Homo sapiens: one gene and its partner. The protein of the gene in region 1 interacts with the protein of each later gene in a pairwise test. Each region holds a gene or a part of one and is shown on either strand. Other genes may lie near its edges. The genes, in order: MAPK8IP2 and ANGPT1.

The links.
Region 2: the proteins of MAPK8IP2 (region 1) and ANGPT1 interact in binary tests that used the Homo sapiens proteins (3 or more experiments, as listed by UniProt).

What each region holds. Positions count from the first base shown.
Region 1 is NC_000022.11:50,603,533-50,619,778, forward strand, and holds the end of MAPK8IP2 (C-Jun-amino-terminal kinase-interacting protein 2), read left to right. Parts: intron 1-93; coding exon 94-187; intron 188-305; coding exon of another isoform or gene 306-308; coding exon 309-1,532; intron 1,533-1,835; coding exon 1,836-1,911; intron 1,912-2,029; coding exon 2,030-2,202; intron 2,203-2,292; coding exon 2,293-2,402; intron 2,403-3,125; coding exon 3,126-3,233; intron 3,234-3,388; coding exon 3,389-3,459; intron 3,460-6,679; coding exon 6,680-6,778; intron 6,779-7,174; coding exon 7,175-7,247; 3' UTR 7,248-10,446; downstream 10,447-16,246. UniProt on the Homo sapiens protein: The JNK-interacting protein (JIP) group of scaffold proteins selectively mediates JNK signaling by aggregating specific components of the MAPK cascade to form a functional JNK signaling module.
Region 2 is NC_000008.11:107,314,454-107,330,699, reverse strand, and holds part of ANGPT1 (angiopoietin-1 isoform 1 precursor), read left to right. Parts: intron 1-8,571; coding exon 8,572-8,804; intron 8,805-16,246. UniProt on the Homo sapiens protein: Binds and activates TEK/TIE2 receptor by inducing its dimerization and tyrosine phosphorylation.

The DNA of each region.
Region 1 (16,246 bases):
GCCTGGGTTCATAGCACCTGGGCTGCAGCCAGCCCTGCTCACCCCCTGGGAGCTGGCCCTCCTCAGGACCGCCGTCATGTATCTCCACCCCAGGACTCCCTAAACAACAACGGAGGCTTTGACCTGGTGCGTCCGGCCTCCTGGCAGGAGACAGCGCTATGCTCACCCGCCCCGGAGGCCCTCAGAGGTGAGGGGTGGTGGGCCCGCGGGGCGCGGGGAAGCGGGGGAGGAGGGCAGGGAGGATGGACTGGCTGCTGGAAGAGGCCTGGGTGGTGCAGAGAGGGTGACCCCACCTCCCTGCCCAGCAGAGCTCCCGGGCCCCCTCCCTGCCACGGACACCGGGCCCGGCGGGGCGCAGTCGCCAGTGCGCCCGGGTTGCGACTGCGAAGGGAACCGGCCTGCGGAACCCCCTGCGCCAGGGGGGACTTCGCCCTCCTCAGATCCCGGCATCGAGGCTGACCTGAGAAGCCGCTCGAGCGGCGGCCGCGGGGGACGTCGCAGCAGCCAGGAGCTGTCCTCGCCCGGCTCCGACTCGGAGGACGCGGGCGGCGCGCGCCTGGGGCGCATGATCTCGTCCATCTCGGAGACGGAGCTGGAGCTGAGCAGCGATGGCGGAAGCAGCAGCAGCGGCCGCTCCTCGCACCTCACCAACTCCATCGAGGAGGCCTCGTCGCCCGCCTCGGAGCCGGAGCCCCCGCGCGAACCCCCGCGCCGCCCCGCCTTCCTGCCCGTGGGCCCCGACGACACCAACAGCGAGTACGAGTCGGGGTCGGAGTCGGAGCCGGACCTCAGCGAGGACGCGGACTCGCCCTGGCTGCTCAGCAACCTGGTGAGCCGCATGATCTCCGAGGGCTCCTCGCCCATCCGCTGCCCCGGCCAGTGCCTGTCTCCTGCGCCGCGCCCGCCCGGGGAGCCCGTGTCGCCGGCCGGCGGGGCCGCCCAGGACTCCCAGGACCCCGAGGCGGCCGCGGGGCCCGGCGGCGTGGAGCTGGTGGACATGGAGACGCTGTGCGCGCCGCCGCCGCCCGCGCCCGCCGCGCCTCGACCCGGCCCCGCGCAGCCCGGGCCCTGCCTATTCCTCAGCAACCCCACGCGTGACACCATCACGCCGCTGTGGGCCGCGCCCGGCCGCGCCGCCCGCCCGGGACGAGCCTGCTCCGCCGCCTGCTCCGAGGAGGAGGACGAAGAGGACGACGAGGAAGAGGAGGATGCCGAGGACAGTGCGGGGTCCCCCGGGGGCAGGGGCACGGGCCCCTCGGCGCCGCGGGACGCGTCGCTGGTGTACGACGCGGTCAAGTACACGCTGGTGGTGGATGAGCACACGCAGCTGGAGCTGGTGAGCCTGCGGCGCTGTGCTGGGCTGGGCCACGACAGCGAAGAGGACAGCGGCGGGGAGGCCAGCGAGGAGGAGGCGGGCGCGGCGCTGCTAGGCGGCGGTCAGGTCTCGGGGGACACCTCGCCGGACAGCCCTGACCTCACTTTCTCCAAGAAGTTCCTCAATGTCTTCGTCAACAGCACATCTCGGTCCTCCAGTGAGTGAGAGGTGGGGAAAAGGGGGGTGGCCCAGAGGAAGGTGCAGACTCCCTGGCCCCAGTCCCAGGGTCCCCCACAGTGCCCAGGGCCACCTGAGGGTCTGGCTGTGGTCAGGGCTGGGTGCCCTCTCCCACCCAGGACATGGCATGAGGTGGCCTGCTCTGCCTCAGCTCCTTCCCGCTCGTAGGACACCTACACCGGACTGTGGAGGGGACTTGGCCTCTGCCCAAGGCCAGGCCTCTAAGCACTACTCTGACTCTGTCTCCCTGTCTCCCCCGCCTCTGTCCTGCCGGGTCTCCCAGGCACCGAGTCCTTTGGCCTTTTCTCCTGTCTGGTCAACGGCGAGGAGCGAGAGCAGACTCACCGGGCTGTGTTCAGGTACGGCCTCCCTCCTTGCTGGCGGTGGCCCCAGCCTCAGTCCCTGCCATCACGGAACGCCAGTGGACACGACCGTCAATCCCGCCCCCCTCCCCAGTGACCTCTCCCCCAACGGCAGGTTCATCCCGCGGCATCCAGACGAGCTGGAGCTGGATGTGGATGACCCTGTGTTGGTGGAGGCCGAGGAGGACGACTTCTGGTTCCGTGGCTTCAACATGCGCACGGGGGAGCGCGGTGTGTTTCCTGCCTTCTACGCCCATGCGGTGCCCGGCCCTGCCAAGGACCTGCTGGGTGAGGTCCCAACCCCGAGGGGAGGCTTTTCACCCCAGATCCTCCCCTGTGCCCCTGCCTGACCTGGGCCCTCTGTGCCCCGCTCCCCAGGGAGTAAGCGGAGCCCCTGCTGGGTGGAGCGCTTTGACGTGCAGTTCCTGGGCTCCGTGGAGGTGCCCTGCCACCAGGGCAACGGCATCCTGTGTGCAGCCATGCAGAAGGTCAGTGTGGAGGCCGGGCAAGTGCAGGCTGAGGGTCCGCTTGGCGGCCACACCAGCACTGCAGGCTGGCACAGGGCTTGAGGCTCCAAGGTCTGAGGTCTGATTTCCTCCAGGGAGGGTCTGGGGGATGCTGCAGGGGGAGCTCGGGGTGGGTACCCCAGGCCCTGGTTCAGAGGCCTGAGCAGGTGAGTCTAGGGCAGAGCACAGCAGCTGTCCCTCATCACCTCTGGGTCTCTGGGCCACAGATCTTCCAGGTGGCCCCGACTGCCATCAGCCCTTCCTCTTCCCATCTGGAATCAAGACCAGCCCTCACAGCCCCTTCCCTGGGAGCCCTCTACTCATCCACTCACTCAGTGGACGTTTAGTGAGCACCTGCCCAGGCACCAGTACTGAGGCTGAGGCTGGGGGGCAGTAGGGAGCAGGGCAGAGCAGCCCAGGGCGGGTGAGGTCTCTGTTCCTGGCTCCTGAGCCAAGCGCAGCAGCCTGCCTGGAGGAGCAGAAGGAAGATGAAGCAAGCTGACTGCAGAGAGGCGATTGCTCCTCCTGAGCCTGAGGAGTGGCCAAGGCCACACCCCTTATGTCTTCCAGAATTGCATCTCAGGGTCCTCAGCATGTGTGTCCTCAAACATAAGCTAAAAGGAGCAGAGGCGTAGTCCCACCAAGGGGAAAGAAAGGCCCTTGTGGGCTCCTCAAGACCCTCTTCTCCCCCAACTTCTTCTGTAGATTGCCACTGCCCGGAAACTGACCGTCCACCTGCGCCCTCCTGCCTCCTGTGACCTCGAGATCTCTCTTCGGGGGGTCAAGCTGAGTCTGAGCGGAGGAGGGCCCGAGGTGGGAGTGTGGGGGACTGGGGACCGGGGACTGGGGGATAGGGTTAGGCCACGGAGTCCGACGGGGCCAGGCTGGCAGGGGTGTCCAGTAGGTGGGAGGCAGGGGTGGCGCCAGGCCTCCTTTGACACAGGGACTTCTGCCCACCTCTGCTCTAGTTCCAGCGCTGCAGCCATTTCTTCCAGATGAAGAACATCTCCTTCTGCGGCTGCCATCCCCGCAACAGCTGGTGAGAGTCTGACCGTCCCCGAGTCCCCCAACCGCCCCCACAAACCCTGAGAGTCCAACCGCCCCCTGAGTCCCCACAGACCCTGAGGGCTGCCCGTGCCCAGCCCTGAGAGCTCCACCTGCACCCACTTAGCTCTGTGAGCTGAGCCTGCAGTGGCGCCTGCTCTGAGCTGGACTCAGGAGGCGTGGGTCAGACAGGCTTGCATCCAGTCTGGGTGGAGAGAGGCACACGGGCGAAGGATGTGAGAAGCCTGTGTGGGTGCAGAGGACGCCTGAGTGGGCCTGGGGCTCAGGATGGCCAGCCTGGAAACACAGCAGGTGACAGCGGTGGGGAAGTGGATCTTCCTGGTGGGGTCTAGCTGAGCCAAGGGTGTGGGATGCACTGGTCGGGGGCTATATAGGCTCTGGGGCCCGCGTGTAAGGGGAGCAGCTAGAAATGCCGGGGAAGACCTGGACCCTTTTGATTATGCCAAGGAGCTGTACTTAATCTTGCTGGTAATGAGGCCATAGAAGGCTCCTAATGGAAGGAGGTGACACAGGGGACCTGGGGGCTGCTGAGGTTATACAGGTGCTATGTCCTGAGACCAAGTGTGCAGATGCAAGAGGCACTGAAGAGGCAGTACAGGCAGGACCTAGGTTGACCGGCTGTAGAGGGTGACCTGGAAGAGACCAGGGTGACGTCTCCCTGGGGGATGGTTGTACTGCAGCCCACACACCGAGAGGGGATGCGGGATCAATCACAAACGGTGAGACTGAAGTGGCCGTTGGTCCCATGGGTCTGGAGTTTAGGAGGGAGACCTGGAGGGAAGATACCAGGTCAGAGCAGGTAGATCACTGAGACGAGAGGGGAATGGCCAGGCAGGGTGAGGGGAGGAGGGGAGGAGGAGGTGCTGGCATAGGAGCAGCAGGCCAAGGGGGGCTGCCAGCTTCCCTCCAGGCACAGGCCCCTGCCCTCTGTGTCCCAGCACCCTAGAGGAAGGAGATCTGGGAGGAACCAGAGAGGCAGAGCCAGCCAGAGGCTGGAAAGGACTTGCGGGGAGTTGGAGGAAGCAGGCTCACAGACAGGCAAGACACAGCAGGGCACGGTGCTGCCAGGACTGAGGCGTGGGACAGACGTCAGTGCATCTTGGGGGCCTTGTGGACTCTCCCTGTGGTCGAGAGTGAGGGTGCTGCCTGCTGGAAGGTGCGGAGCCCTTTTGTGTTGTCCCCGCCGAGTGCAGAGATGGTCTGATGGGATCCATGCGGAAACGCTGCTCAGTGGGGTGGAGAGGTGGGACAGCGGGCAGCGATGCAGACCAGACTGCGGGGCCAGCTCTGGGGTGGAGAGGTGGGACAGCGGGCAGGGGCGCAGACCAGACAGCGGGGCCAGCTCTGGGGTGGAAAGGTGGGACAGTGGGCAGGGGCGCAGACCAGACAGTGGGGCCAGCTCTGGGGTCACCAGGACAGCGAACGGGGCGCAGACCAGACAGCAGGGACAGCTCTGGGGTGGAGAGGTGGGACAGCGGGCAGGGGCGCAGACCAGACAGCGGGGCCAGCTCTGGGGTGGAGAGGTGGGACAGTGGGCAGGGGCGCAGACCAGACAGTGGGGCCAGCTCTGGGGTCACCGGGACAGCGAACGGGGCGCAGACCAGACAGCAGGGACAGCTCTGGGGTGGAGAGGTGGGACAGCGGGCAGGGGCGCAGACCAGACAGCAGGGACAGCTCTGGGGTGGAGAGGTGGGACAGTGGGCACGGGCGCAGACCAGACAGTGGGGCCAGCTCTGGGGTCACCGGGACAGCGGACGGGGCGCAGACCAGACGGTGGGGCCAGCTCTGGGGTCACTGGGACAGCGGACGGGGCGCAGACCAGACAGTGGGGACAGCTCTGGGGTCACTGGGACAGCGGACGCTGCCAGGAGAGGAAGAATGACCCAAATTTCTCATCAGAAGGAAACTGGGTGAAGCTCAGGTCTCAGGCTGGACAGGGCCCCAGCTAGAATTTCGTGAGAGGAAGGTGGTCAGTCGAGTTTGGGGTTTGGAGTCAAGATGTGGCAGGGGTGTGGGAGGAGGTGGAGGAGCTGCTGCCCTGGCCCAGACCTTCCTAATATTTGTCACCCCAGACCCCCCGTCCCCGGTCCCTTGCCACGAGGAGGCACGGACGAAACCGTGTGAGGTGAACGATGAACTCGTTTCTTCATGGCGGTGGTGGTAGGTCAGGAGAGCGTGGGGTGTGCTGTGTTGGGATCTGGCATTAGGATGTCTGGTGTTGGGATCACAGACTGTAGCCTTTTCTCCCAGGGCTGCCCATCCTGCCTGTGTGTCCTGGGCAAGCTCCTGAACCTCTGTGCCTAGCTCTCCATCAGGGCCCTACCTCAGAGGGCTGTTGTGAGGCTTCTGTGAGTTAATGGAAAGGGCAGAGGATGGTGCCTGAGTAATGCAGGAAGCCAGATCTGTGGGTCGGCGCTTATTACCATCATGACTTGAACGCGGCATTTGAGGCGGGCCCTGTGCTCTGTCTGTGGACAGCGTGCACACACTGTCCTGGCAAGCAGACCATCATGTGGCTTCCCATTTGGTGGAATCGCAAAGCCCCGAAGCCATGGGGGAATGGACGGGTCGGCCAGTTTCAGGGGTGGGGGTGGGGCAGCGTCCTGCTGCAGAACTCTGCCTGCCTCTCCCTCTGGACGACGATTTTTGATTTTTGCTAATGTCTGGGTGGAGGAGCTGGGCAGTGACTCCATGAGCGAGGCCCCGCAAGGAGCTGCTTTCCAGTGGGAGCGAGGGGTAGACCGGAAGAGGGTTTTACAGACCAGGGGTAACGTCCAGCCCCACCTCGGAGCTGGGCAAGGGGCTGTCAGTCTGCTAGGCCCGCAGGAGGAGGCCTGAGTTGGCAGGAGATATGGTCTCCAGTAGCCAGGCAGAGGCCTTGCTCTGTGGTCCTGGGGCAGGCCCTGAATAGGGCCACAGAGGGTAGCAGCACCGGCTCAGAGAAGGGAGAGTGGACGCCCCTGGTCATCATGGAATTAACTCAGAGCGTGAACTCTTGGTAGGTGCCCAGCCCTGTGCTTGGGCTGAAACCAAAAAAAGACAACTTCAGATCTTGAAATTGTGCGACCCCCACACTCCTGTCCCTTACCCTCTCCCCAAGCCCTTTGTTCCTGCCTCTTCTCTCTACATCATTTGTGGGGTGGCCAAGGCTGGGCCAGGGCTCTGACGTGCCCTCCACACTGACTTGCCCGCAGCTATTTCGGCTTCATCACCAAACACCCCCTGCTGAGCCGCTTCGCCTGCCACGTCTTTGTCTCCCAGGAGTCCATGAGGCCGGTGGCGCAGAGTGTGGGGTGAGTGGGGCCCCAGGGTGTGGGTGCAGAATGGGTGCAGGGTTACGGAGGTGGGGAGCGGAGGTGAGCAGGTGGGGGCAGGAGCCTGGCAGGGGAGGTCTGGGGAAGGAGAACCAGATGTGCTGTGTAGAGAGGGCAGTGGTGGGTGACAGTTTGGGGTGCTGGGCATGGGGTGGGAACAGGCACAGACACATGGCCCAGGCACTCTGGCAGGGGTAGAATTGCTGGGCCAGGAGAGCTGAGGGTCACACTTGGGGGTGACATGGCCATGCCTGGGTGGGGGGTTATGGATGGCTGCAGAGGGAGGAAGGAGGGAGAGCTCAGAGGCTCTGTGGAAGGCAGTTTGGGGGTTGAGGACCGGCCCTGAGTGGCTGGTGGAGGACCGTCTTTCCCCAGCCGCGCCTTCCTGGAGTACTACCAAGAGCACCTGGCGTACGCCTGCCCCACGGAGGACATCTACCTGGAGTAGCCTGCCCACCGCTCTGTCTCCTGGCCGTCTGCTCCAGGCGCAGCTGGGGCTGAGGATGTCTCAAGAGGCCACCATGGCTTTGGCAAGGACTGGATTGGGGGGACATGGGACCTTACGCTTGTGGGGGTCTGCGGGCTGGGAACTCTCGTCCTCGGTCCCCAGGGCGCAGCTGTTGGGGCTGCGGGGGAGTGGAGCCCCCGTGCCCCTGCTTTTCCTCAGATCCGTTCTTTCTCTGTGTTGTCCTCCTCCTTCCCTTCCCAGTCTCCCTTTTCTCTCTCCTGGTGTCTCTGCCCCTCTCTGTGCCTGCAAACCTTATCCTCTATTCTTCACTTTGGGGTCAGAACTTCGGGGGTGTGGAGGAGGTGCGGCTCTAGGGACAGGTAATGTCGGCTTCCAAGTGATGCCCTCCTGCCACTCCCCTGCGATTTATAAGGGAATTTTAATTTTTATAGTGAATCTCAAGGGATCATCCCATCCTTGACCACAGGGACAAGAGGGGCCCCCTCGCCCCAGCCCCACCCCACATGGAGCTCAGGGGGAAGCAGGGAGGGGTTCCCAAAAGAGCCCTGCGGAGGCTAGGAGTGGTTCTTGATGCTCACCTGAAGCCCCTAGACGCTGCTAGGAGGGGGGGCCCTCCTGGGCCCCCAATACCCCTCCGCTTGCCGCTGCTAGCGCACCCCTGCAGTCCAGCGTGCATCCACCCCACGCACGCCCCGTGCTGTGTTCCTGGGCCCTGCCCATGGCCTCAATAAACTCTCTGCTTGGTGTGACATTGGCTGTTTCTAGAGGGTGCTAAGACATGGGGCCAGGTGCCCAGGGGCTGCCCATTGTGGTAGGGACAGAGTCCCCAGTGGCGGGAGTGTTGTGGCAATCTCACCCTTTTAGCTCTTTCCGAAATTGTGCCGGGGGTCCCTGCGGTGCTGCTCTGGGGCCTTATCTGAGGTGCCGTATCTAGAAGCACCCTTGGGAATTCTCCCTAGATACACTCGATTGGCCACAGAGGAATCCGAGGCTGTGCAATGGGGTGTCCTTTCCACGTGCACGGACTGGGGGCCAGCACGGCTCAGGTCAGTGTGTAGTGGGGGCATGAACTCCTTGAAGAACAATCTGGCCGGGCACGGTGGCTCACGCTTGTAATCCCAACACTTTGGGAGGCCGAGCCGGGGCGTATCACCTGAGGTCAGGAGTTTGAGACCAGCTTGGCCAACATGGTGAAACCCCATCTCCACAAAAAATACAAAAATTAGCTAGGTGTCCTGGCGCACACCTGTAATCCCAGCTACTCAGGAGGCTAAGGCATGAGAATCGCTTGAACCTGGGAGGCGGAGGTTGCAGTGAGCCAAGATTGCACCACTGCACTCCAGCCTGGGCGACAGAGGGAGACTCCGTCTCAGAAAAAGGAAAAGAAAAACAATCTACTTAGATCTTAAAATGGATATTTAAAAAATTCTCCAGAGAAAGCCAGAAGAAAATAGGTGACTTTTTCACTATGTGCTTAGGTGACTGCAGATGCCCGGCAATGTTCCCTCCCAGGCCCTCCTGGGTGAGCCCGCCTCCCAGGCAGGGGTCAGCATGGCCGGGGTCCCTCTGTCTGAGCCCAGGATTCGTGCAACACCAGGAAGACAACAGTTGAAGGTTCCTTAGTGAGCTAAGGGAAGTATACACAAACTTACTACATAAACATTAGAAAGTGCTGTCCGTAAAAAACACGTCTTCACAGAGCCAACAAGCAGAGAAATAGCTGCCCAGTGTTAGGAAGTGCATCATGATCCAGAGGTTCAGCCCGTGTGCAGCGCACAGACCTGAGGCCCCAGAGAGACCGAGGACGCAGACCAGTGGCACGACGGAAACGCAGAACGTTTATGAGAAAACTTTCCTACTAATTGAGATAAAGCTGTAAAGAGGCAGATAGCCCCACTGGGTGTGTACGTTTGAAACTTGTGCCCCCTGGGCTAGGGCATTCGGGGTGTGGCCCTCAGTCCCCTGTAGCTGCTGCCTGGAAACCGCTGCCACCCACCCACCTCCTCCCTCTGCTCTTCCACTCAGGTGAGAATTCTCCAAGCCCTGCCCTCCGGCGCCCCCGTCCCGCCCCTGCCCGGCCTGGCCCCGCCCCTGCCCGGCCCCGCCCCCCAACGTGTCTTCAGGTCTCTTTCCCTCCAGCCGGCCCTTAGGACGGCTGTTGGACGTGCTCGTGAGTCCTTCGCCTGTCTGCCTTCCACCTCTCTGCAGCTCCTTCTCCAATCTCATGGTCTTCTTGAGCTTGGCCGCCCTCCACGCCCCATGCTGGGCTTGGTCGGTTCTGGGGTCTACCTCTCTGGCTTCATCCCTCCCACAGTTTCGAGGGTTTCCCTGTGCTCAGGCCCCTGGCAGCCGCCCCCTGTGCAGACCACTGGGCAGATCCAGCTGACCTCCAGGGGCACTTCCTCGGCTCATCACTGGGCCGGTGCTCTGCAGAATGAGCTGTGAGAGCCACTGTGGCTGGCCAGAGGGTGCCACTCACAGTCACTTCAGACTCACAGGAGCCTTCGTCCCGACCCCTGCATTCATCTGTGTTCTGTTTTATGTTTTTTCCCAGTCACCTGAGCTGCAGGCCTTGGTCACCCCAGACTCCTCCCTCCTGTCACCCTTATCCTCACCCCAGCACCTTTACGTCTGCCCCAGGCTCCATTTCCCCCTCTTCTGCCTGGATCAAACCACCCTGACTTTCCTGGGTCTTCGTGCAACAGCCTGCTCCGGCCGCTGCCTCACTGCACCTGCAAATCCACTTGCACCCACACCCAGGCCAGGGTTTTTAAACAGAAGCCTCAGCAGATCCCTCTCTCTGGCCAGCTCCCTGTTGAACCAGGAAGCAGGTCCCTGTTGAACCTCAGCATGACCCGCCCCCACCCCTGCATCCCACTTCTGCTCTGGGAGCCTCTGGGTTCCTGGGCGCACCTGCTGCCCTTCCCTGTTTGTCACTGGGTGACCTCCCGTCCTTGTGGGCGCTCCCGGGCCCTGGTCTCGGGCCTTCTGAGGACTTGCTCTCCTGGTAGCGGCTGCTGACTGTGAGCCCAGAGAGCAGGCGTGGCTGTTGACCTTAGGTCCTCCCAGAACCTGGCGGATCGCCTGGCTCCCAGGCAGGAGGCGCTGCATGACGCCTCCAACTTCCGCCAATCTAGCCCAAGGATGGCGTTCTAAATAAAACGCGTTCTACAGAAAAGTGTTTATTGCATTCTTCTTTGAAATAATGTAAGCATAAAAGTAATCTGAATATTGACCAATAGGGTTAATTGATTAAGGTATATTTACCTAATTGAAATATTGGGTAGATGTGAAAAAAAGTTCCAATGTTTGTAATTACACAGAAAATTTCTGTTATGCTATTAAGTGGAAATAAATTTCTGGGCACAGCAGCTCATGCTACTGTGTAATCTTAGCAATTTGGGAGGCCAAGGTGGGCAGATCCCTTGAGTCTGGGAGTTCGAGACCAGCCTGAGCAACAAAGCGAAACCTCTATCTCTACAAAAAAAAAAAAAAAAAAATACAAAAATTATCTAGGTGTGGTGGCACACACCTGTAGTCCCAGTTACTTGGGTGGGTAAGGGAGGAGGATAGCTTGAGCCTAGGAGGTTGAGGCTGCAGTGAGCCATGATCATGCCACCACACTCTGGCTGGAAAGAGCAAGACCCTGTAACCACAATGAAAGAAAAGAAGAGAGAGAGAGAGAGAGAAAGAGAGAGAGAGAGAGAGAGAGAGATGAAAGAAAGAAAGAGAAAGAAAGAAAATAGGCAGGGTCATATGTAGCATTCTAGAAACTATATGTTGAAAAATGCTGAAACACAAAAAATGTTAAAAGTCATTTTTGGCCGGGCGCAGTGGCTCATGCCTGTAATCCCAACACTTTGGGAGGCTGAGGCAGGCGGATCATGAGGTCAGGAGATCGAGACCATCCTGGCTAACACGGTCAAACCCCATCTCTACTAAAAATACAAAAAATTAGCCGGGTGTGGTGGCAGGCGCTTGTAGTTCCAGCTACTCGGGAGGCTGAGGCAGGAGAATGGCATGAACCTGGGAGGCGGAGCTTGCAGTGAGCCAAGATCGCGCCACTGCACTCCAGCCTGGGAGACAGAGCAAGACTCCGTCTCAAAAAAAAAAAAAAAAAAAAAAAAAAAAAAAAAAAAAACCACCTCATTTTTGCTGAAGTTGAGCTGAGGGTGTTTCTCTTCCTTTTTTTCCTGCAGCAAATATGTCTTAATTTTTTGAAGTATTATTTGCTACTTATTAGAGACCTCCAAGTGCAAATGGAAATATCCACAGAAAAACTAAAGATAAAAAAGTTAAGATAAATTAATCAAACTCAAACAAAAAAGTTATTTTGGCTACAATAAAAATACCACCCCATAAGGTTATCATAAGGCTTAAATGAATCTGCCAGTCAGACAGGCCAAGGGTAGTGCTTGAGTAAGTTATTATTTTTATAAACACTATAAAAGTAGGATTTCCCTATTTTTAAAAATATTACTTTCCCTGGCTGGGCGTGATGGCTTGCACCTGTAATCCCAGCACTTTGGGAGGACGAGGCGGGTGGATCACCAGGTCAGGAGATCGAGACCATCCTGGCTAACACGGTGAAACCCCGTCTCTACTAAAAATACAAAAACAAAATTCGCTGGGCATAGTGGTGGGCACCTGTGGTCCCGGCTACTCGGGAAGCTGAGGCAGGAGAGTGGCGTGAACCCGGGAGGCGGAGCTTGCAGTGAGTGGAGACCGCACCACTGCACTCCAGCCTGGGAGACAGAGTGAGACTCTGTCTAAAAGAAAAAAAAAAAAATTACGTTCCCTATAAAGAGTAACACATATCATAGACATTTTGGAGACTGCAGATGATAGAAGAAAGGCTAAAATCAACTGTATTTTTATGGCCCAGAGATAACTGTTTCTAATATTTTGGTGTATTTTTTCCAGTCTCCCTTCTACTTGAGGGTTGAAGGCAGAGGGAGGTTAGGGGAATCAAGAAGAATTTAAGGCAAAAGATAAAAGCAAAATAGCAGAGGTCGCTGCAGGCATACCTTGGAGATTTTGCAGGTTTGGTTCTAGACCACCACACTAAGATTGCAACAACGTGAGCCACACAAATTTTCTGTTTTCCAGCGTATATAAAAGTTATGTTGGCCAGGAATGGTGGCTCATGCCTGTAATCTCAGCACTTTGGGAGGCCAACGCAAGCAGATCGCTTGAGCCCAGGAGTTTAAGACTAGCAGGGACAACATAAAAAAACCCGGTCTGTATATATATTGTATACCTGTATATTTTATAGATATACACGTATGTAGTATATAGATATACATGTATATAATATATATAAATACATGCATATTTTATATATATATATATATATTAGCTGGGTGTGGTGGCATGTGCCTGTAGCCCCAGCTATTCAGGAAGCTGAGGTGAGAGAATTGCTTGAGCTTGGGAGGTTGAGGCTGCAGTGAGCTGTAATTACACCACTGCACTCCAGTGTGGATGACAGAGTGAGAACTTGTCTCAAAAAAAAAAAAAAAGTTATGTTTCCACTATACTGTAGTCTATTGAATGTGCAATAGCTTTTAAAGTATATACCTTAATTTGAAAATACCTTATTGAGCCTGGGCACGATGACTCACAACTGTAATCCCAGCGCTTTGGGAGGCCGAGGTGGGTGGATCACCTGAAGTCAGGAGTTTGAGACCAGCCTGGCCAACATGGTGAAACCCCATCTCTACTAAAAATACAAAAAAAAAAAAAAATAGCCAGATGTGGTGGCAGGCGCCTGTAATCCCAGCTACTTGGGAGGCTGAGGCAGGAGAATTGCTTGAACCCGGGAGACAGAGGTTGCAGTGAGCCGAGATTGCGCCATTGCACCCCAGCCTGGGCAAAAAGAGCAAAACTCCATCTCAAAAGAAATAAAATAAAATAGGGCCGGGCTTGGTGGCTCATGCCTGTGATCCCAGCACTTTGGGAAGCCAAGGCGGGGGGATCACGAGGTCAGGAGATTGAGACCATCCTGGCCAACATGATGAAGCTCCATCTGTACTAAAAATATAAAAAATTAGCCAGGCGTGGCCAGGCTCAGTGGCTCACACCTGTAATCCCAGCACTTTGGGAGGCTGAGGCAGGCGGATCATGAGGTCAGGAGATTGAGACCATCCTGGCCAACATGATGAAGCTCCATCTGTACTAAAAATATAAAAAATTAGCCAGGCGTGGCCAGGCTCAGTGGCTCACACCTGTAATCCCAGCACTTTGGGAGGCTGAGGCAGGCGGATCATGAGGTCAGGAGATCGAGACCATCCTGGCTAACACGGTCAAACCCCGTCTCTACTAAAAATACAAAAAATGAGCCGGGCCTGGTGGCGGGCACCTGTAGTCCCAGCTACTTGGGGAGCCGAGATCACGCCACTGCACTCCAGTCTGGGTGACAGAGCAAGACTCCGTCTTAAAAAAAAAAAAATTAGCCAGGCGTGGTGGCACGCACCTGTAGTCCCACCTACTCTGGAGGCTAAGGCAGGAGAATCGCTTGAACCCGGGAGGCGGAGGCTGCAGTGAGCCAAGATCATGCCACTGCACTCCAGCCTGGGCATCAGAGCGAGACTCTGTTTTGAAAAAAAAAGAAAACACCTTATTGCTAAAAAAATGCCAGTGATCATCTCCACCTTCAGTGAGTCATAATCTTTCTGCCGGTAGAAGGTACTGCGTCAGTGTTGATGGCTGTTGACTGATCGGGGTGGTCGTTGCTGAAGGTTGGAGCAGCTGTGGCAATTTATTAAGACAATGAAGTTTGCCACACTGACTCTTTCATGAAATATTTCTCTATAGCATGTGACACTGTTTGATAGCATTTTATTCATAGTAGAACTTCTTTCAAAATTGAAGTCAACCCTCTCAAACACTGCTGCTGCTTTATCAACTAAGTTTATGTAATATTCTTTTTTTTTTTTTTTAAGAGACAGGGTCTTGTTCTGTCACTTAGGCTGGAGTGCAGTGGTACAATAATGGCTCACTGCAGCCTCGATATCCTGGGTTCAAGTGATCCTCCCACCTTAGCCTCCCGGGTAGCCAGGACCTAAAGCAAGTGCCACGGTGCCTAGCCAACGTTTTTTTGGAGAGATGAGGTCTCACTATGTTGTCCAGGCAGGTCTCAAATTCCTGGTCTCAAGCGATCCTCCCACTTCAGCCTCCCAAAGTGTTGGGATTACAGGCCTGAGCTACTACACTCGGTCCTGTGCAATATTCTAATCCCTTGTTGTCATTTCAACAATGTCCGTAGCATCTTCACCAAGAGTAGATTCTATCTCAAGAAACCACTTTCAGCCAGGCACGGTGGCTCATGCCTGTAATCCCAGCAATTTGGGAGGCCAAGGCAGGAGAATCACTTGAGCCCAGGAGTTCAAGACCAGCCTGTGCAACATGGTGAGACCCCCATCTCTACCTAAATAAATAAATAAATAAATAAACAAGAAAATTTAAAAAAAACTTTCTTTGTCCATAAGAATCAATTCTTCATCTGTTCAAGTTTTATCGTGAGATGGCAGCAATTCAGTCACATCTTCAGGCCCACGTTTAACTCTAATTCTCTTGCTATTATGATACTTTCAACACATTTGCAGTTACTTCCTCCACTGGACTTGTCACCTCAAAGTCATCCATGAGAGTTGGAATCAACTTCTTTCAAGCCCTGTTAATGATGATGATATTTTGACCTCTTCCTGTGAATCATGAGTATTCTTTTTTTTTTTTTTTTTGAGACAGAGTCTCACTCGGTTGCCCAGACTGGGGTGCAGTGGCGCGATCTCGGCTCACTGCAAGCTCCGCCTCCCAGGTTCACGCCATTCTCCTGCCTCAGCCTCCCGAGTAGCTGGGACTACAGGTGCCCGCCACCGCGCCCAGCTGATTTTTTGTAATTTTAGTAGAGATGGGGTTTCACCGTGTTAGCCAGGATGGTCTCCATCTCCTGCCCTCGTGATCCACCCGCCTCGGCCTCCCCAAGTGCTGGGATTATAGGCGTGAGCCACCATGCCCAGCCTAGCATCTTTCTTAAGGGCCCTGGGATTTTCAGAATGGTAAATGAGCATTCAACTTAAAGCCACCAGCTGCATTAGCCCCTAACAAGAGAGTCAGACTGTCCTTTGAAGCTTTAAAACCAGGCATTGACTTCTCTCTAGCTATGAAAGTCACAGATGGTGCCGAGTGCGGTGGCTCACACCTGTAATCCCAGCACTTTGAGAGGCCGAGGCAGGCAGATCACCTGAGGTCAGGAGTTCAAGTCCTGCCTGGCCAACATGGTGAAACCCCATCTCTACAAAAAATACAAAATTAGCCAGGCCTGGTGGCGCATGCCTGTAATCCTAGCTACTCAGGAGGCTGAGACAGGAGAATCACTTGAACCCGGGAGGCGGAGGTTGCAGTGAGCCGAGATTGCGCCACTGCACTCCAGCCTGGGCAACAAGAGCAAAACTCCGTCTCCAAAAAAAAAAAAAAAATTGCGTACACTGAAGATCTATTGTTTACTGTAGCCACCCTCATCACTTACCTTAGCTGGATCTTCTGGAGAGCTTGCTGCAGCTTCTCCATCAGCACTTGCTGCCCCACCTTGCACTTTTACATCATGGAGACAGCTTCTTTCCTTAAACCATATGAACCAACCTCTGCTACCTTCCAGCTTTTCTCCTGCAGCTTTCTCATCTCTCCCAGCTTTCACAGAATCAGAGGGAATTAGGGCCTTGCTCTGGATTAGACTTTGGGTTAAGGAAATGTTTTGGCTTGTTTGATCTTCTATGCAGACCACTTAAACTTTCTCCTTAAACAGCAATAAGGCTGCCACAGTTTCTTTCTTTGTTTTTCTTTTTTTCTTTTCTTTCTTTTTTTTTGAGACAGAGTCTTGCTCTGTCGCCCAGGCTGGAGTGCAGTGGCACAATCGTGGCTCACTGCAACCTCCGCCTCCAGGGTTCAAGTGACTCTCCTGTCTTAGCCTCCTGAGTACC
Region 2 (16,246 bases), on another chromosome or scaffold:
CTATGTCTTAGGTCAAGCTGCCATGAATTCTTGTCTAGGCCACTGCAGTGACCTCTGGGTTTAAGCTATGTGCCACTCCAGTCCTTATCCAGAAGCTGTGCCAAAGTCTTCTTTCTAAAATGCAAGTCAGACTATTTTCCTCTATTAATTCCCTCTCAACCAAATGACAATTCTCTATAACTGATAGAAGAGAGTTCAAGTTCTTTAGCACACAATACAGTCCATGATCACTATAATCTTACTTTTGCAGACTTACTTCCAATAATCTTATTTTTTAGAGGATACACGCTAATAGTTAAGAGCATGAGCTCTGAGGCCAGACTGCCTGGTTTCACTTTTCCTTGATTCCTGGGATAATCGACTAAGTCACATATTATTTGTGTGACTTTGTGCAACTTACATAGACTCTATGTGTTTTGGTTTCCTAATTTGTAACATAACAATGACAATAATTGTACTGTATGAAGTTAAGATGAAGATTGAGTTAATGTGTGTAAATCACTGAGAACAGTGCCTGACATGAGCAGCAGTGTTTAATCATGTTAGTTGTTAGTATGACACTGAACACATGATGTTATTTCAGACATATTTGATGTTTGCCTGACATTCCTTATTCAACTCACAAATTTCTGTTCATCCTTGGAAACTCATTGCATGTGTCAGCTTCTCTAACAGTCCGTCTCTGGCTCTACCAGATAGATTTGCTCATTATGACCTATGTGATAGCCCTGTACCTGTTTCCTCCCCATAATTTCACTTATCTGATCACATTATAATATATGTATGTTTCTGTGTGTGCATGTTTATTTATCTATATCCATACTATTAGGCTGTGACCTTCTAGGACACAGAGAATGTGTTTTATTTTCATTGTCTTCCTGCTCCCGGGCACAATTTTCTACACATAAGCATATTTAGTATTAAATGCATTTTGAATGCTAAATGAATAAGGAACTGGGAAATGTCCCAATAGCTCTAACCCAACAAATGCCATTTATCCATACGACACACAGAGACTCACACACACACAAAGACTCACACACACACACAACTAATAAAAATACTTATAGTGGAAAAAACAAATCATATTGTTTACATTAAATACTGTAAATCCATTTATCGTTTTCAACATGAATAAAATAGAGATCGTGTTTACACCACTATTCTGCATTGTCAAAAGCCCATTGCATGGCACTCAATGTTACTATTGTATACTCTGAGGTTCACTAATTCAGCCCACCTTTAAAATTTCTGGATAGCATTTGCACAGGCCATTCTAGACCTATGACTGTTTCCTCCATTTCTATGATAAATAAAAACAAGTAAGACAAACTTGTTGTATATACATGTATATTAAATTATATACATGCATATACAGTTGTAAGTCAAATTTCCCCTAATTCCACACCCCTACACCATACCACCTGCTAGCAGAGAATCATCATTAAGAGATTAAATTCAGTGCTTACTCTTCCAGATGTTTTCTCTAAACATACTAACATATGTGTATATATAGAGTGTGCATATTTATGTGTGTGTTTACACAGATGTACACTCATATATAATTGCACACATGCACAAGTACTTGTTTATATGATATGTGCATATATGTGTAGATTATTTTATCATTGGGGTTTTTTCTACTATTTATTTCATAATAATTTGTCATACATATATTACACATATAACCATAAACAGATATACCTCATTCATTTTCAAGAATGAGTAGCAATCTATTTTTATAGATGCACTATAATTTATAACCTATTATAAGTATTATTTATGTTAATAGATATATAATTTATCAAAACTATAATTAGTGATGTGATAATTTAAATTTTTTATAGATATTCACAAGTTATCTTCACATTTTACCTTCTCCCTAAGAGTACCTGGGCTTTCAAATTTCCCAAAACTTTGCTAGCCATCTAATTAATCTCGGCTTCTTCAGAAGTTAAGTTGTGCATGTTTTTGTGTGTATTAACCATTTGCATTTCTTCTGTGACTAGATTTCTTTTTCTGTGACTACATACTAGCCTATTTACGTATGTTTAACATTTTTTCTACTATATTGTTTATCCTTTTTTAAATTAACTCATATGAGCTCTTTAATGGATATTAAAACTTTGTAATATATGTTACAAAATTTTCTCTAGTTTATTATTTATTGTCCAACTTATTTTTTAATAGAAACATTACATCTCTGTGTTATGAAATGTATCAATCTTTTTTTTTCTTAGTTGCTGGTTTTTATAATACATTTAGCTTATTCTTCTTTACCCCAAACTTTACATTTATTTGCCAATATTTACTTATAGTATCTATGCTTCTACTCCAAATTTGAATTTCCAAACAAATATGATTTCAGACTTTGAGAGGAAATTTATTGCATTCCAATTAGACACGTAAAGTATAAATTTAACCTGAACTAAATCTGTGTGTATTTAAATGGGGAGAAAAATTACTCTTTACAAACCCATATTTGCAACACATGTTGACACCATACATGTTGAAAATAGTGGAAAATATTGGAACATCTGTAAATAGATTCAGACAGATAAAAATGAGGTTTCTATATTTTCAACATCTTCCTCCTTGTTTGAAGGGCTATATTTATACTCATAGAGCTTAGGCAACTGTCACCACTGTGAATTCATTGGCTGCTATGTTAAGAACTCTATTGTGGGAAACAATTTGAAAGGGATATCCTTTTCTGTGAAAGCTTCAAGATATGTTCAATGATTTGAAATATTTCCAATAAGATGTTGGAGAAGGCAGTGTAAAACAGGGGTATGGAGAAGTCTACCAGAAACTTCAAATAGGACTTGCTGTACACTCATTTAGAACCTTTTACTAAAGTTCGAGGCACAGATTATTTTGTTTATTTTATTCATTAAAGTGCACCTCTGCCTCAAATAGAAGCTAAGTGCCAGAATTCTATGCATGTCTCTTCTCAAAGTGTTTCCAGAAAGACGGGAAACAGGAAGTCCTAAGACTCCTGTGAGAAACTCTCTCCTTGGATTTCTAGCTCAATTTGTATAGATTTAGGTGCATGGTTTCATAAAGTGTTGTTCCATGGAACCCTAATCCTAAAAGAAGCATCTTAATAAAAACTGTTTGTTTAATATAGGCCTCCCTAAATCTTAACAATGAAACTCTTATTTTGCTTCAAAGAACATACTGAATATGCTCTAGGAAACAGTGCACTGGTGTTCAGTAACCATCCAGGTTTTGTGTTTAAAATGCAAACCTAAGCTAAACATGTAGCTGAGACTGTCATCAGGGAAAATCTGACTACTTTGACTATCTAACTTTAGGACACTGGGGCTGCAGTGTTGTCCTTCATATCAACCTCTCTATATAAAGATCCCCATGCTAGCTGAGGTGGCCACTCCCAACGGACCTGGATAACGAAAATAGTAAAGAATCAATGAAAGGCTTCAGGGACAAAATGAAATATGAGCAGTATATTAACAATATAATTAAAATTAACACATAAATTTAATGGAAGAGGTATTAAGACAGGGTAGTATTTAAGAAAATTCTAGTCCAGATGTTAAAAATCGACTTGACAAAGTAATTCTGTTTTTATACGTGGGAAAGATAAACAGGTTCAAATATTGTGAAGGATAAGCTCCCAGAACAACTAAATGGAGAGCAGCAAATATTAAGGATATGTGAAGGCAGTGCCTTGGTTCCTGGTATAACATGATGAATAAAAGGAATAGGAAGAGATTATAGTGTGTTAAGTCAAAGAGATGAGACTATAGGATGTTCATTGACACAGCAGTGGGATGTCTTGAGTAGATTTCCAGTCTAACAACTTAGAAGACATGGCTTTTTATTCCTGGTTCTGACACTTAATATCTGCATGATTTTGAAGAAAACATTTGATTCTTACCTATCCATGAGGGTCTGTAACATCTGCTCATTCTATGTTACTATATTGCTTTAAGAATCAAAGGAGATAAAGGTTTCAAATTGCTATATAACTATAATGGTGTGTTACAAGAATAAGATAATAAGTAGAGATGGTATATGGAGTTTTCTGGCAAGTGAGGTTTGCATTGAAACCATTTTGGAAGTAATGACAAGGAAGGGCTGACTTCCAAAGTAGATACTAGCCAATAAATGGGAGGAATCAAAGAGAAGAGAGCAGTCTTTTGGAAGCCAAATATGAAGAGAAGATGAAAAAAGGGGATGAGTGTAGTCAAAAGAAATGGAAGGGTCAAGAAGAGATCAGTCTTGCCTGAAGAAGTCTAAAAAGTTGTCATTAATATGAAAAATGTCCCTAATAAATAAAGTTGGTAGATAATTACTGAAGTACAAATGTTATTAAGGGCGCTCCAAGTGAAGAAATGTGATGAGAAAATGATGAGAAGAGATAATTAACTGGTAAGACTTGCCATTAGAGAAACAATGTAACATGTTTCCAATTTGCTTGTAGTTGTTATGCATATTACTTGGGTTTCCAAATCCTGTGGAATGTCTGTGCTGTAGAGTAGCCTTCTTAGTTCCATGGACAGTCTCTTTTTCACATTACATGCACTGTCTATTCTAAGATGACAAACTATATGGGTATCTTTTGATACCTGCTAGTAAGGGAGCATTAAAGGTTGTCTGATGAATTATGAAAATTAATGTTCTGTCTAACGTGCTAATGTGCGTTATATTATATATTATACATATTATGTATTCCTTTTACTCAGAAAAGCAGATCTTTTCCACAAGCCAGTGTCCAGAATTGTTTCCTTTAGTACCAGGACTTCTTTGATCTACTTTCCATTCTCAGCTCTTTCCAAGTTATCCTGAAAAACAAAACAAATCAAACAAGCCCACCTTCTTTACTGACATCTCAGATAGCAGCTATCTCTGCGCATATGTCCGCTTGAACAAGGAATACATCAAAAATAAACAGAAAAACACTGATGCAAAAATTTAAAAAAAAAGTATTATGTCTGAAACAGAAGTTTCTTTTAGCTTCTGCATTTTCATTTGAGGTTTTTATTCTCTAAAAATAAACCCTAGAGTAAGAATAGTGTCATTTTATATTTTACAGAATTATTGGCACTTAGCAACTAATAAATACAAATTATAACTATAGCATGATATTTTCCAAACCAGAATGTTACCTACTGATTAGGAAAACTGAAAGGCCAGTGCCCATCTTATTTCAAGTACAAAATGGTAATTCAGAATTTTTATCCAGTATTATATGACTATAACGTTCAAATTTTGATATCTACATGCTTGCCAGTTTAATAGGTAATGCTAAGTTTTCTCACTAGTAGACTATAACGCCTATGAATTTAAAAGGCAATTTTCTTATAAGTTAACAACTCTAAATTATGGGCATCTTGCCTCTGATCATTACCCCAGGACTAGCAAGAAAAGTAAATAAAAAGTAAACAGAGAATAAGCTAAGACACTGGTCGTGGTTAATTCTCAGATCTAAAGGCCAAAAATTAATGGGCACAGAGAAGATCTCCTTTGACGCCTACCCCAGTAGGTGGGATGAAACTTTTAACCAATAAAGATAGTGAAGAAGTTTTTTGTTTTTGTTTGTGTTTTACCACGAACTTCTCCAACAAAAAGTTACTGGCAAAGAAAAATAACATGGTAAAAGAAGATGAATCATACCTACCCCTTACAGATGTTGTTTTTCATCTTACACTGCTTACCTTGCCTAAGTTTTTCATTTCCAAAAGAATTTTTAAAAAATAAGTGATCATCACAGTTTCCCTATATTACTGTACCCAAGCTCTATCTAAATTGGGTTTACTTTATGATCGGTGCAGGGCAGGGCTCCTTTCTCTCTTGGTATTGGTAGAATGAAAGCAATTCAAAACAGAAATGGGACTTCTACTGCAGAAGTCACACAGTTTCTGCTAATGGGTCTCAATGAGAAACTTTCTTATGTGAATGTGTGCACACTACTAAAGGTATTATAAATTAGTAGAGTCTTAGCAGCCTCAGGTATTTTTCAGGCTTGACTTCACAGGCAGCTTTCCTGCCATATTCTTCGAGTACAAGTTTGTTGGCAAAGATTTGGAATGCCCAGGAGTAGTTCTGGCCACACTTCTTTTTCCTCTTCCTCTTCTTCTAAACAATGGAAATGTATTCTCTGAATATTCTGGAGGCTGAAAGTCCCAGATCAAGGATCAAGGTGCCTGCAGGGCTAGGCTCTCTCCGAAGGCCCTAGGGAAGACTCGGTTCCAGGCCTCTCTCCTACCTGCCAGTAGTTCCTTGGCTTGAGGCAGCAGTGCTCCAATCTTTACACAACCTTTTCCCTGTGTGCACATCTGATCTGTCTCTCAACATTTTCCCTTTTTATAAGGACACCAATCATAGTGGATTAGAAGCTCATCCTCCTCCAGGATGACCTCATCTTAACTAATTACATCTGCAACGAATCTGTTTCTAAATAAGGCCACATTCTTGACTTCCTGGAGGTTGGGACTTCACACACACACACACACACACATATATATATACATATATATACATATATACACACACACACATATATATATATACATATTTTTTTTTTTTGGCTGGGGGGCAAGCATGGGCAGGCCATAATTGAACTCGTAACAACCACTTAAAACAGTACCTGACACTGGCCGGGCACAGTGGCTCATGCCTGTAATCCCAGCACTTTGGGAGGCCGAGGCGGGCAGATCACAAGGTCAGGAGATCGAGACCATCCTGGCCAACACGGCAAAACCCCATCTCTACTAAAAATACAAAAAATTAGCTGGGCATGGTGGCAGGCGCCTGTAGTCCCAACTACTCGGGAGGCTGAGGCAGGAGAATGGCGTGAACCCAGGAGGCGGAACTTGCAGTGAGTAGAGATTGAGCCAAGATCACGCCACTGTGCTCCAGCCTGGGCGACAGAGCAAGACTCTGTCTTAAAACAAACAAACAACAACAACAAAAAGCAAAACAAAAAAACAGTACCTGACACATAGCAACCATGTCATAAATGAGAGGTATCATGACTAGTATGATTGACATCATCATCACCATCTACCATGCTGATCCATCCACAAGGTTTCTGGCATCTACCAGGATGGCACAGCTTCTGCCACATGGACTTCTCTCGATTCCCTCACAGTCTTTTATGCCATTTAAGCCTTGGACCCACACTTCTTAATCTGTGTAAAAGACAATCAGATGTTACACTTTGTCCCCCAGTACCTGGTGTTGGAAGATTTGGCTCTTCAAACATGCTCTATTTTATAATTTAAGTATTGAATCTAAAACACTCCCTAGTGTCCCCTTTTTGAAAGGAATGATTCAGTGCTGTATTTCTCCAAGGTAAATTAAGTGCCCATTCTGGTATGTGGCATTTTAATAACACCTTGTAAACTAAGGACGGGTTGAACCTTCTGAAAACAGAACTGAGAAAACCGAGTAAGCCTTTCCCCGGAGGAAAACTAGTATATTAGACACTCCATAAAATGTTAATGCTTTTTATTTCCAGTCAGTTGGTAGGCTCCAAAAATGCTTCTGCTTTCTCTATCATTTTTAATGTGCAATATACAAGGGGAATATCCTATAAAGAGCTCAGGGAGAAGGAAGGGCCTCAGTTAAAGATTTCAACACTCTGAGCAAAGCATCCCAACTCCTTTCAGAAGACCATACCATCAGCCAAAGGGAGTCTTCCTTTTGTTACCATTTATACAGTGACTTGGGAACTTGTAGTGTCATTAAGCCTCATCCTGAAGCTTGAGTTGAGAAATAAAGGAAGCTAGTGGTTATGATACAGGACCAGTTATCAAAAATCACAAGAATTCATTGTGACTTTAGATAGATCACTTTTGGCTCCTGTGGTTTCTGTGTCAATATAGTTTTCTTTTTGTATGTGTGTGTGATTGAGAATGTATATTGCTGTTTTTTCTTTTTTCACCTAACATATTTTGAGCATTTTCTAATATCCTTAAAATGATTAAAAATATTTTCAACAGTTTCAAAATAAGAGATTTTTTTCTTTCTTAATGTCATTGTACATAAACCTTTGTGTTTCTGATTATTTCATATTTTTCTCTTTATTTCTGATTTTGCAGATGGTCAATATACTATTCTTGATCCCACAGAACTATCGTGAAATTTAGTCAATGTTAACGTTTTGAAAACCCCAAATAAATGAAGCAAAGTGAATAAAAAGTAGTTTCTACGTGTTGTTTGTTTTTTTCCTGAACTATTCTGTTTCCTCTTAGGCCCATTTCTTTAGTGAAAGTTATACTATAACTTCTTTAGAGTGTAGCTATTTGGGTGTAAGTTAGCTACCTTGGATATAAGATACACCCAAGGAAACCAAGAAACTAAATCATAGTTAAAAGCAAACATTACTCTGACAATATCTGGTTTACTTATTTTTTATTTGACATGTTATATGTGTAACTCCTATTCTGAAGAATACATATTCTTAAGTCTCTCACTTAAAAATATTTTTACAGTGAAATGTAAAATTTCTCATCTTAAATAAATTCAGGAACCAATTGAATTATAAGGGTTTTTTTGTATAACATTTTTTCAAATCTAAGTTTTATTTTCACTTCCTTGTAGTTTATTAGAACATAAAATCTTAGAAATGGAAGGAAAACACAAGGAAGAGTTGGACACCTTAAAGGAAGAGAAAGAGAACCTTCAAGGCTTGGTTACTCGTCAAACATATATAATCCAGGAGCTGGAAAAGCAATTAAACAGAGCTACCACCAACAACAGTGTCCTTCAGAAGCAGCAACTGGAGCTGATGGACACAGTCCACAACCTTGTCAATCTTTGCACTAAAGAAGGTGGTAAGAATGTCTTCCTCACTTTGGTATTGTTAATATTTTATTTCCTTTGATCAAGTAAATACTCAATATAGCTTTCTACAGTGCATTGATTGCTGTGTAAAAAATAGCAGAAGAACTTTATGGTTAGAATCATTTATGAAGTTATGTTGATAATTTTCTCATGTTTCTACCTGGAGAATGTATTCATAAGCCTAAATTTGTGAATCCACAATGTCTTTCTGAAAGAGCTTTCTAATTTCTTCTTTCTTTGTCTTTTAACCTTAGATAAAATCTGTGATACTGTCGTGAATAAATAATTGGTATTATGGTGTTAGACACTTAACTATATATAGGACAGAGATGAGCCAATGTTAAAAATTAGTTCATAGTGCTGGGAGAGTTTCAGGAGGATTTCCATTTTTAAATGAATATTTATTATTTCCTTTTAAAGGGAATGGGGTAGGAAATTGTGGGTTGCAGAGAAACGGAGACAGACTATTTGAAACAAGTATTATGAGTGAGGCAGGATTATTGTTATTAAAAATGTTTATTAAGATCACTTGTGCTTAGTCCTGTGCAGGATAGATTTAATCAGGGTATTTAAGTTCATTAATTCTGGGGTATCTTTGTGACAGTGGAGATACAAATTTTTGATATCACTAGAATGTCTGGAGTCATTGAACCTTTGGGAATATCTACAACCCTGTATTTCTTTAGAAGGCATACATCTGTCTATCCATCCATCCACCTAACAATTATTGAATGAATGCCTCTGCTTGCACCTGTTTCCTTCAAGCAGAACCTCTAGTGAGCCTCAGTAGAGCTCTTCAAAGTTTGGAACTTGAAGTCATCTTCTGTATTTCTCTAATCAGCCTTTCTCTGAATGAAGATGGAATTGTAAATGGTGATGAGTGAAAGAGAATACCACTTACATCTGCAAGTTGTTGTTATTAAGCTGTGGCTTATGTGACCATTCATGAAGTGGTTCAGTGAGCATATGCAATGTACACATGGGGAGGCTCCTTTAATTTAAAAGTGGATTTGAGCTATGTGACAAATTTGTTCAATTTCATGCTTTCATCTATAGTTATGAATAGGGAAGATAACTCCATATTAAGTGATTTTGTTTTAAAGACATTTCATATTTCTCTATTACACTCCATTACCTCGAGTTATATCTCCTTTAGATAGTCTAAACAAGCCTTTAATATGCTTTGTAAAGTAATATTTTTTAAACAGTGAGTTCCCAGAGCTCCATTTGGGTGTGCTCAGTAATGTGGTTGGGAAGGGAAAAGCCTGCTAATCAGTCAGACTCTGCCAAAATCTTGAGTTAGAGTCCACTGGAAGGAAAGCATGGTAGTATTTTGCCAGAGAATTTTAATAGAACTCATGAGTATTTAACGATTAAGTATTAATACAAGTTATATCTATTCTCATATTGAGCTGAATACATTTTGGGAAAGATTGAAAACACATTTTTCTTATCATCCTAAGACTTAAAGCACATGGAGTGGAATAGTGGTTTTTATTTCATGATTTTAGGGATGTCAAGCCCTAGTGATTCTCACAGAGCTCATATGTCTGCGTACTTATCATAATTTAACTTCTTTTCTGAGTATTTGCCTAATAAATGTGTCTTTAAGCTTTTAGAGGAAGAGGATGTGACTTTAGAAGTAAACATTCTGGCTAGGTTTCAACTTTGGGCGCAATATCAGGGAAGCAAACATCTGTTCAATTTAAGAAACATTTTTGAAAAATGAGGATAGCCATGATAGATGGTACCCTTCATAGCCATTCAGGAAGTGAAAAAAGTAACTGTGTCTGTTCTATGATGTAGTATATCCAAAAATAGTAATAATAATCATAGAAACTGAATTTGTCTAAATATTCCAGGCCTCTAGATATCTTTTCTTTTTAATGACAAAACTCTGAAATGAATCTTGATTTAACTACAGGATTTGCCATCTTAATTTAAGGTGATTGCCTAATTTTCCAATAGGTTCTCTGCTGTCATGACCATAGATTTTATTTGCTTCTTGTTAATCTCTTTTTTCTTTAATCTTACTGTTAAGCGTTCTAACTAAATATTTAGTTACTTTTAGAACTCATAAGAGACACAAAAGTGGAAAGTGGCTCTCATAAGGTTTTTATGAAGATTTTCATTGTCTGCATATCTTTATTTTCACTGGAGCCTTAGTCGTTGGCTATGGTGAATTTAAAATTTTAAATGGCTAATAGCATAATACTAGATTGAATATCAGTTATTAAAATGAACTTTTATTCAAATTCTAAAACACATGGGTAAAGCCTTTCTTTGTTTTATGACCAAAATTTATATATCATATAAATTTATTATTTATTGAAGGATTATATGTAAATATTTTACTTATAAATTTATATATATGCAAATATTTCAAAATAAGCATACCAGAATAAACGCATCAAATATTCTAAAATGTACATTTTAAAGCTCAAATATAGGTATTCTACAAGATCTTAAAAAACACGAGCTGTGTCGTCATCCAAAAAGCCAAACATTTTAATTGACCCTAAAAGGTCTTCTGGTTTCAATCTGACCCACTAATCTGTGGAGACAGCCTGAATATAATACTGCAAGGCCAGACTAAAAAAATGTTAATGAGCTTCCCCTGTCATTGGCAACCAGTTTAACCTTAAGGAAGCTGTCTCATCATGTATAAAGTCAGGAGAATTCTGTCTATTTCACCACAATAGGGAAAGAATTACATTAGATGCTCAATATACAAGCGAAGATCCCATTGCTGAAGACACAGTTGATTCATTAAACTTTAGTTTCTTCTTTCTCCTTCGATGGACAAGATTCAGTTAAGTACATTCATTATGTGCTTTATAAGCAAAACTTCCTCTGCAGAAAATGTTTAAATACAATGCCCCGGAGTGTTTGAGTGTTGACAGTCATCCAGGCAGCTTTTTTGGCCTCCATTTTCTGATCTCTAAAATGGGATCATAATATCTACCCGGTAGGTATGTAGTACACCATAAATATATACAACTTTTGTCAATTATGTAGTTCAAAATTGCCAAAAAAGTGGATTGTAAATGTTCTGACCACAAAGAAATGACGAGTATGTGAGGTAATGGATATGTTAATTAGCTTGATCATTCTGCAGTGTATACATGTACCAAAACATCACGTTTTACTCCAAAAATATATACAGTTATTATTTGTCATTAAAAAATTCAAATTTAAAAAAGAAATAGAGGGCCTAGAATAAATACATACATAAACAAGTAAATGAATTAATTTCTTAAATGTTGAAATATTAAAAGAGGTTAGTATAAAACGCATAGCTTCTGTGTTAAGTCATAGTCAACATTAAAATAATCGTAATTATCTTTATTTTAGTGCCTTCTAAAATGCCTATAATGCATTAAAGTTATATGATAAAGAATTCCTAGGAAGTGTTGGCTAGACATGTACTTTTTTTCCCAAACATTTGTTTGATCCAGAAACTGTAAATCTATCTTTGCATTCAGAGAGTGCTTTTGTTTAGTTTCACAGCACTTTTTCTACTAACACATCTGATGTTGTGAGATACTTTTAAGAAGGACAACTAATAAACACATTATCTGAAATAATTCACCAAACTTTCCTCTTCTTATTCCTAATAGACAATAATGGTGTCTTAGGCAAATAGTCAATTCAAACTGAATTGCATCCACTTTGTAAGGCTTCTGAGTAACACATTTATTTTTGCCTAACCTTCATCTGCAAACATTGGGCCACATTTATTCTTAGAAACATTATCCACTAAAGAAATATTGCCCTCAGTGTTATCACAATGTCAAAGCTCAGCCTATTGCTTCATGTTTTTGGCAATTCAAAATTACCAAAATTAAATATTTGCTGGAATTAAGTAATTTACATTAATAAGGCATACAAACAAGGTTTGGAATCTTTCAGGGGAGAGTAATCAGTTACTGTGACTATTAAAAAACCACTAGTTGGCCAGGCGCGGTGGCTCATGCCTGTAATCCCAGAACTTTGGGAGGCCAAAGTGGGTGGATCACTTGAGGTCAGAAGTTCAAGACCAGCTTGGCCAATATGGTGAAACCCCATCTCTACTAAAAATACAGAAATTAGCTGGGCATGGTGGCACATGCCTGTAATCCCAGCTACTCAGGAGGCTGAGGCAGGAGAATTGCTTGAACCCAGGAGGCGAAGGTTGCAGTGAGCTGAGATCACGCCACTGCACTCCAGCCTGGGCAACAGAGTAAGACTCTGTCTCAAAAAAAAAAAAAATAAAAATAAAAATAAATTCACTGGTTATCTATGTACACTGGTGATTAAAATGTCATCTCATGTTGAGCATACACGTGGCAAATATATAATTGGGAATTTAATTACTAACAGCATGTAAAAAAAGGAAGGAAGGAAAAAAGAAAAGAAAAAGTTTTTAAAAAAAGTATTTAGACTGTATTATAAACTTACATAGTCTGATTGTCTCACACTGCTCAAATCAGCTCGAAGCTCATTTCTGCTGTAGCAGGATGTGGTTCATAAATTTATCCATTCATTCAAAACAGTTCTGCAGCAACTGTTCTGTTCTGGGGAAATGATATTTATTCATTTTTATTTAACAAATATTTGGTAAGTTTCTATAATGTGCCAAATATTGCTCAGACTACTGGGAAGAAGAAAAGATGTATTTCATTCTGTGGCTTTAAGGAACCTAGGGTTTGATAGGAGAGAAAAAAGTAAACAATTATTTTTCAGAATTATTTGCTAGAAGTGAGCCTAGGGTGCCTGGACCCGAGCAAAGCTCACAGAGAAATATTAAAATCATGGCAGGAACAGAAGGATAAGGGCAGAATCCAGCATCTCTAGAGTTTTCTTGGGGATTTTACTGAATCCTTATTATGATTCTAGTTTGCTTAGGCTTTCCACGTGTTAGCCCTTACAACAGCAACATGAGGGAGTTACCATGTCTAGCATAATTTTATAACCTCTACAGAGAATTTGAGAATTTGCCCAAAGTTACAAAGCTGGAAATCATTGATCTAGGATTAAAATATAAGCAAGCTTGTTCTAGTGGGAAGATGATAGTTAAGTCTAAAAAATGAAGAAAGTGAAGGACACACCAGAGAGTACAAACGGCATGTTTATTTTCCAGAAGTCATGGGAGCGGGCTGTAGCCTAAGTCTTAAAATGAATTTAGAGAGAGGATCTCTGAGGGAGACCAAAAAGGCCACATTTTTTCTATAAAATCAATGAGCAGTCATTGTCAATATATGATGATAATGGTGATATTTGTGTTTTACAAAAATCTCCCCAGTGACAATGTAGGAAAAATATACTGTAAAGCTGAGAAGCCTGGAGTAGGGGACCAGATGGGTGCTTTTACCGTTATTATAATATCAGCAAATACTTGACACAAGCCAGTCTTCTGAGACCTTTGCATATATTAGTTTATTTAATTCTGGTAACAACACTGTATGATAGGTTCTATTACCAACTCTATATGAAAGGTAAGCTAAGCACAGAGAGGTGAATAATGCTTAAATATCACACTACTAGCAAGTGAGCAAGCTGAGATTTGAACCCAGAGTCTTGTTCTGAATACTGTACATTACACGCTGCACCATATTGGACAGGGAAGGTAGAGTTGATGATTTTTGTCAGAATTTCAAAGTGATCTCTAGGAAAGAAATAGTAAGGTCCATATTAAACAGGGGTAAATGGAAAAGTAAGTGGAAGAAATTTGTAAAAATAGAAAAATTAGAATCAGCAAGAAATAATGACTTCCTAGAAGTCTAATCTAATACCAATTGCACATTTCTAGGTTAAACAACTGAGGGAGCATAGATCACATTCTTTAAAACCAGCAACATGGGAGATGAAATAGATTGGAAGGGAAAAAATAGTGAGTTTTAGTTTGGGATATTTTGACTGAGTTGCCTGTGGGACAGAGTCTGGCAGGCAGATAAATCGGATTCTAGAAGGAGAACAATGATTTGTCCTCAGAGGAGACAAGAGGTAAAATCATAGAAAGTGCATATAAAGCAATGGCTCTTATTCATGTAGGGGTCACAGATCCATCAGGAAACCAGATGCAAACGGCTATTTTTCCTTTCCACTTACCCCAACCCCAAAATGCAAGGATATAAGCACACATTTGTGTACAATTTGAGAGCATTTACATACCAAAGTTATGAGTGCATTGTATGAAAAAATGACAGTGTAAAATCAAAGACAGAAAAATTTGAAGGTTTTTAAGGGACAGGTTAAAAAAAAGAGACCGAAAGAAAAATATAGACAGTGTGAAAAACAGTAGTAAGCAGTGTTTTGGGAAGGTTTAAAAAAAAAGGACAGTTATGAAGGATGTTCTTTTCAGTGGCAAGTAAGCATGACAGTCAAGTTTTTAAAAAGAACCTTCTGTATGCAGAGGTTTGGTATGCTACATGGCTCAGTTGCATATCTCAGAGACTAAAATGAGTGAGAGGAAGTTAACAGAAATCATTATATACCTGCATTCAAGAAACTTGAATGTGAAAGGACAGATAACAACTTTAAGTAGGGAGGCACACGGAGTAGAGGAAACTTAAAAATAAGTACTGAGAGACAAGAACATGTTTATATACTTAATTCTCTCATAAGAAGTTCAAATTTCAACTCATAGGAGCTTCTCATGAAGTTCATTTTTAAGAATCATTTCACATTATCACAGAGACATAATGGCTGATACTACAAATGTTTAAGTGACCACTATTTGAGCTAAAGTGCCTTTCCCAGAAGCTGATTGCAGTGGTATGGAACATTTGATCATTATTATGGGTCCTCTAGTCTTCTTAAAGGGGGAAATGAGGCATTTGCTTTCTTCTCAGTGCTGAGGAGTCATTTGGCTTGATTCTCAGAATAATTCTACCATCTGAAAGGAATTTACCTCCCATGTTGTGTCTGTTGAGTTTATGAAGTTTATATCATTCTGTAAGGGATGAGATAGTTTGAACTGCAAGTCCCTTGAGTTAAGAATGACTCTAAAAACATCACAAGTGATGGGAGGAAATTAAAACTTTTTGAATGTCAGTCATATAAACATTGATAAAAATGGAATATATCAGTTTCGTTGACTGGGTAAAATACTTGGTTTTTCATTTACTACTTGTAGTGCACAATTTAAGATTAGGTAGAAAGAGAAAGAAAAATACAGGAAGTCATCTGCTGAACACTGCAGTGAGTACTTGTTTCCATTTAATGAGGGAAATGCTTTATCTTGACAGAAAATTATATGTCAAACATTTACAATTTCCTTAAAATGAACCACACTATCTAGCACTTCCTTTCATAAAACCCAGTGGCTTAAGGCAAAATTGACTGTTTATTTTTGGAAATGGTATATTTCTCCTTTTTGATGGAGCGTGTTATCTGCCTTTTAGAATAGTCATAATTTCTGTAAAAAAAATTGTGAATAGTGGATAGCCAA